2 separate regions of the Homo sapiens genome follow, and region 1 is linked to region 2. The links come from fine-mapping of genetic effects on gene expression. A gene starts in region 2. The other region holds a variant in brackets. All regions are shown on one strand. Distances are between the middles of the regions. Region 1 has its middle 15 kb from the start of LINC01531. Region 2 holds the start of FFAR2 (free fatty acid receptor 2).

Evidence for each region. PIP is the estimated chance that this variant, and not a neighbour inherited with it, causes the effect. A credible set is the group of variants that fine-mapping cannot tell apart.
Region 1: its variant is the best candidate, but not a certain one, in a credible set for the expression of FFAR2 in whole blood (TOPMed, PIP 0.68).

The regions. Positions count from the first base shown.
Region 1 is chr19:35,419,052-35,421,957 of GRCh38, forward strand. No RefSeq gene overlaps it. Among named protein-coding and RNA genes, the nearest start is that of LINC01531, 15 kb to the left of the region's middle. The variant G/C (reference allele first, on the strand shown) is at 1,180.
Region 2 is chr19:35,446,991-35,449,896 of GRCh38, forward strand. It overlaps FFAR2 (free fatty acid receptor 2), which reads left to right and starts at 1,267. Exons shown (of 2, transcript NM_001370087.1): 1 at 1,267-1,389; 2 at 2,724-2,906. The coding sequence starts at 2,725.

The DNA.
Region 1 (2,906 bases), 28 kb before region 2:
GGGAGGTTGGCCCCATTATCACTGCAGGGCATGCAACCCAGACTTGGCAATCTCAGTCCATCTAGAGTCAATCTTTTCTAGACTCTTCTAGACTAATTCAGAAAGCAGCTTTCTCTTTCCACAGGGTGGTTAGGAAGGTAGAAGGTAATCCTGGAGCTTCCCGCCACCACGCAGGAGGAATTTGCCTGAGAGCAAAGCCAGCATAGAGAAGCAGAGCTGAGTCATGGAGACAGGTGGCTGAAAGTTTCATTTCGGCATATGGATCTCACCATTCCTGAAGCCACTTTCAACTCTTCAATTTCATAGCTAATAAATTCTCATTTTTGCACAATTAGCTGAAGCAAGGTTTTTTGTTACCTGGAAGCAATGAATGCAAATGTTTTTTAGGTAATTTGTTAATAGTAATAAAAGATAAAGAATATAATAATAAAGAATAGGGGCATTTCCAGGGCCGGGCACAGTGGCTCACACCTGTAATCCCAGTACTTTGGGAGGCCGAGGCGGGCAGATCACTTGAGGTCAGGAGTTGGAGAACAGCCTGGCAAAACCCCGTCTCTCCTAAAAATACAAGAATTAGCCAGGCGCAGTGGCACACACCTGTAATCCCAGCTACTTGGGAGGCTGAGGCAGGAGAATCGCTTGAACCCGGGAGGCAGAGGTTGCAGTGAGTCAAGATCACACCACTGCACTCTAGCCTGGGAGATGGAGCAAGACTACATCTCAAAAAAGAAAAAGAATAAAGTCATTTCTGAATTGTATCTTTTATGATTTTAAAAAATGAATCAGAGAAGATTCAAGGCACATTCTGACATGCAAGGGTTACAGTCACAGCCCATGGGCCAGGCATGGCACTTCACCCCAGTATGCTGGCGACGGCCCTCTCTGCACCAATAAATCAGATGCCTGCTTAACAACTATTTCAATCAGAAGTGCATTCTGCAGTTTTGAAAGTTTCCACACGTATTATCACTCCTCAGTCATAAAACAATCTGATGAAGTTAGTTTCTAATGCCTTTTTTTTTTTTTTTTTTGAGACAAAGTCTCGGTCTGTCACCCAGGCCAGAGTGCAATGGCATGATCTTGGCTCACTGCAGCCTCCGCAGTTCAAACAATTCTCCTGCCTGAGCCTCCTGAGTAGCTGGGATTACAGGTGTGCACCACCATGCCCAGCTAATATTT[G/C]TATTTTTAGTAGAGACGGGGTTTCACCATGTTGGCCAGGCTGGTCTCGAATTCCTGACCTCAAATGATCTGCCAACCTCGGCCTCCCAAAGTGCTGGTATGACAGGCCTGAGCCACTGCACCTGGCTCTGACCACACGTCTTCCATCAAGGACTTACATCATTCTTTTTGGCCACCCAGAACCTCTGAACTCCCTGCCTGTGAATCTACGCCTGCCCAAGGGAGAAGCAGAAACTTGCTTTCTCAGAGTCGGCTCCCATGTAGGGCACAGGCATGTGACCAAAGTCCAGCCAGTTACCAAGCCCAGGTGGGGGCAGTGCAGCATAGCTGTGACGTTAGGCCCGGAGGCCACTCTAGGGAGCTGGCAGCACACAGCCAGCTGCCAGGGCGGCAGAGAGAGGTGCCGAGGGTGTGGCAGCAGTGCCCAGCGTGTGAACCGCAGAGTGTGCGCCAGTGGTGGAGGTGGTGGTGTCTGCAAGGGTATCATCCAGGCATACCCTCCAAGCCTGGTGTTCTGGCTGGCCTGGAGATTCCACAAGCTACCTAATACCCTTTAAAAACAAAATTCCTAGGCTGGGTGGGATGGCTCACGCCTGTAATCACAGTGTCTGGGGAGGCCGAGATGGGAGGATGGCTCCAAGTGAGAGGATCTCTGGAGGCCAGGAGTTTGAGATCAGCCTGGGCAACATAGTGAGATCCCATCTCTATAAAAATAATTTTAAAATAAAATAAATAGGCCGGGCATGGTAAGCTCACACCTGTGATCCCAGCACTTTGGGAGGCCAAGGCAGGCAGATCACCTGAGGTCAGGAGTTCGAGACCAGCCTGGCCAACATGATGAAACCCTGTCTCTACTAAAAATACAAAAATTAGCCGGGTGTGATGGTGGGCGCCTATAATCCCAGCTACTTGAGAGGCTGAGGTGGGAGAATGCTTGAACCTGGAAGGCAGAGATTGCAGTGAGCCAAGTTCGCACCACTGCTCTCCAGCCTGGGCGATAGAGCAAGACTCCATCTCAAAAAAAGTAAAAAATAAATAAAATAAATAAGAACAAAATTCCTTTTCCGCTTAACCTGACAAGAGGAGAGTCTGCTGTCTGTAGTGGGAAACCTGACAGATACAATCAGGAGAGCATCCAAGGTCTCCAGGCGGACAGTCCTCTGCAGCTGCATCCTGTCTGTGCCATTGGTCCCTCTGCCAGCCTCTTGGCCATGTGTGTAGCCTGGGAAGAATGCTGCCCTGCTCCACCTGCTGTGGCAACTGCCACTATGCGAGATGGCCAGGCTGCTCCAGCTCCCACAGTGGCTCGTGGTCTGTGCCTCCGTCAGTCTGGCTTCTCCTGGGGCAGCGGCTACCGGCTGGACTCTGGCCCAGGAACAGGGCTTTCCCTGTGCTCGCCTGCACCTCGCACCATGGTCCTGGCCCCACGACGACTGAATCTGCCAGTCTCCACTCCCCTGTGCACTTTCTGCACTACAGCAGTGGGATGTGGTGACAGGAACACTAAAGGATTGAATGCCGGGATCCTGGAGGGAAATTGAAGCTGCTGGTGCTTCTGCCTGGGTCCTAGGGGAGCAGGAAACACTGTGGAGTACTTACTGTGGGCTCAGCACAGTTCCATTTTAATTGACAAATAATAATTGTATCTATGTATGGGATACAATATGATGTTTTGATCCATGTTTACAACGTGGAATGATTAAATCAGGCCAATTAAACACATCCAT
Region 2 (2,906 bases):
TTCTTTCTGAGACTTCCTCCCTAGTTCAAGAGGAAAACACGTTCCAACGATCCTTGCTGCATTAGGTGTGTATTTCAAAGGGACCTTCAGGAGCTCCTAACCTGGGGCTACCAAGGTCAGAGAGGGGGAAACAGTGAGACTTTATCAGGGAAAGGAATGGAGCCTGAGTGCCACTCCCTGACGAAAAGCCACATGGGCACGTGAACTCGGGCCTCCTGAATTCCTGACACTTTCCCAAGAGGGACAGCACATCCATGCCCTGAGCCTCTGGAGGCTGCACCAAGTGGCTCACTCTCTGTGAAGCTGCGTTACAGGCTTGAGACGAGGCAGCACTTACGGGCATCTGCTAAGTGCTTTATATACACAACCTCACTGAATCCTCGCAGAAGTCCTAGGATGTCAGAATTCGCATGCTCACTTGACTACAGCAAACTAGACTTCAGAAAACGGATCTGCCCCCAAGGTTGTAATGAAGGGACCTGGATTTGAGCCCATATCTGCATGACTATAACTCCCACACCATTTCCATCACAACAAGATGCAGGCCAGGACCAGCCTGTTTCAGCTGAGACGGGCAAAAGAAATGTGTTGGGGGCAGAGGGCAGGAGACCATAGAGAAAGTAAAAAAATTGAAGAAGAAAAGGAAGGAGTGCCGGGTGCAGTGGCTCACGCCTGTAATCGCAGCACTTTGGGAGGCCAAGGCAGGCGGATCACTTGAGGTCAGGAGTGCAAGACCAGCCAACATGGTGAAACCCTGTCTCTACTAAAAATACAGAAATTAGCTGGGCGTGGTGGCAGGTGCCTGTCATCCCAGGGAGGCTGACGCAGGAGAATCGCTTGGACTCGGGAGGCAGAGGTTGCAGTGAGCTGAGATGGCGCCACTGCACTCCAGCCTAGACAACAGAGCAAGATTCAGCCTCGAAAAAAAAAACCAAAAAAAAAGAGGAAAAATAAAAAGGAAGGAGGAAAGCTCATTTCTGAGAATGAGCAGAATGACAGAAGAAACTGCCTAAGAAAGAGAAAAGAAAATAATCTGACTTGGGAAGTAAAAAAAGAAAAATGCCTGGGAATTTTTTTTTTAAATCAGGAATTAAGGACAGAAAAATCTGAATTTGGAAGTCAAGAGTGAGGATTCTCTAGGGAGAGAATAAAGATGCTGGGCCTTTCCTTTGGGTTTGAGAGGAAATAGTGCTTAAAGACTGACCTTCCTTTCTCTGGTCACGTGGCTGGTGCTAGTATAAATGCTTACTACCAGCCAGGTTCCTCACCATTTTTTCCTGCATGGCATGGACAGAAGCAGGGGCTAAAGCTCTGTTCCTCTCTCCTGGAAGCTTGCAGACCTCCCTTCAGAACCAATCCCAAGAAGCCACCTATCCGGAACAACACAAGGCAAGGCAGCTAGTGTAGTGCTTGTGCTCTGGGAAGAGAGGCCAGGATCAGGTTTGAGGGGAAGGTTCTGGGAGACTGGAGGAAGGATGTCAGAACCAAATGGAAGACTCATACCCAGAGACAGGAGCTAGTGTGAGGAGCAAGGAAACAGCCAGGAAATCAAGGCTGGAGAGTGGACAGAGGGACAGGACCTGGGTTGGGGCCAGCAAGGGTGACACCCCAAGTGGAAACTGAGTTACCCCGTGAAGAAGACGAGTTCTATTTATGGTCAGAATGCCACGCTCAAGGGCCAGTGAAGGCCTGTGGGCTTTTCTGAATATTTCTCTAAGGTCTTCTAGGGACAAGCCTTCCTCCTAAGGCTAGTGCTGGTTCATCCTTCTTCCCCTCCACCCTCCTCTAAGCCTCCCAGCTTCCCCTTTTCTTTTCTTTTTTTTTTTTTTTAGACGGAGTTTTTGCTCTTACCGCCCAGGGTGGAGTGCAATGGCGCAATCTTGACTCACTGCAACCTCTGCTTCCCGGTTCAAGCGATTCTCCTGCCTCAGCCTACCAAGTAGCTGGGATTACAGGTGCCCGCCATATCACCCGGCTAATTTTTTTTTTTTTTAGTGGAGATGGGGTTTCACCACGTTGGCCAGGCTTGTTTCGAACTCCTGACTTCAGGTGATCTGCCCGCCTCGGCCTCCCAAAGTGCTGGGATTACAGAAGTGAGCCACTGCGCCCAGCCCCAGCTTCCCCTTTTCTAGAGAGTCCCAGAGTTTGGTGTTGGACAGGAGAGGACAAGGTGGGGGAGAATCTGTGCTCTGCAAAACAGACGAACGGAAGTAGGAAGCTGGGCTGGTGGCTGGGCACTTGGGTCCTTTGGAGAGCTGGCACTGGGTATCCGCGCCTGGGGCGCCACAGCCTCTTTATACTGATAAGCATCTTACAGCTCTCTCCCGGCACTGATGCCTTTCTCTCCTGCAGGTCTCTGTCTGAGAAAGGGACTTGAGTAAAGTTAGAAACTGGCAACAGTAACTTCCTGTATCTGTGAGGACAGGAGGAGAAAGGCTAGGGAAACTGGAGGGGGAATTCCCTTGGGAAGCCACGAGTTGGTCTCCTCCAGAGACACATGATGGCAAACATAATCACTACTGCTTAATATCCCGCCCCAGGCAAAGTCAATAATTGCTCTGGGTAGTTCGAGCAGGTGGTGTGAGCAAGCCGTGGTGGCATCAGAAAGCACAGTCCTGGGAAGGGGACGGTGCCGGGGAGGATGTCCGCATCCTGAAGGAGAGCTGGCTGCGCGGGCTGTGAGTGAGACCTCCCTGACCCCGCCCTTTTTTGTTCCCCTCCAGGATGCTGCCGGACTGGAAGAGCTCCTTGATCCTCATGGCTTACATCATCATCTTCCTCACTGGCCTCCCTGCCAACCTCCTGGCCCTGCGGGCCTTTGTGGGGCGGATCCGCCAGCCCCAGCCTGCACCTGTGCACATCCTCCTGCTGAGCCTGACGCTGGCCGACCTCCTCCTGCTGCTGCT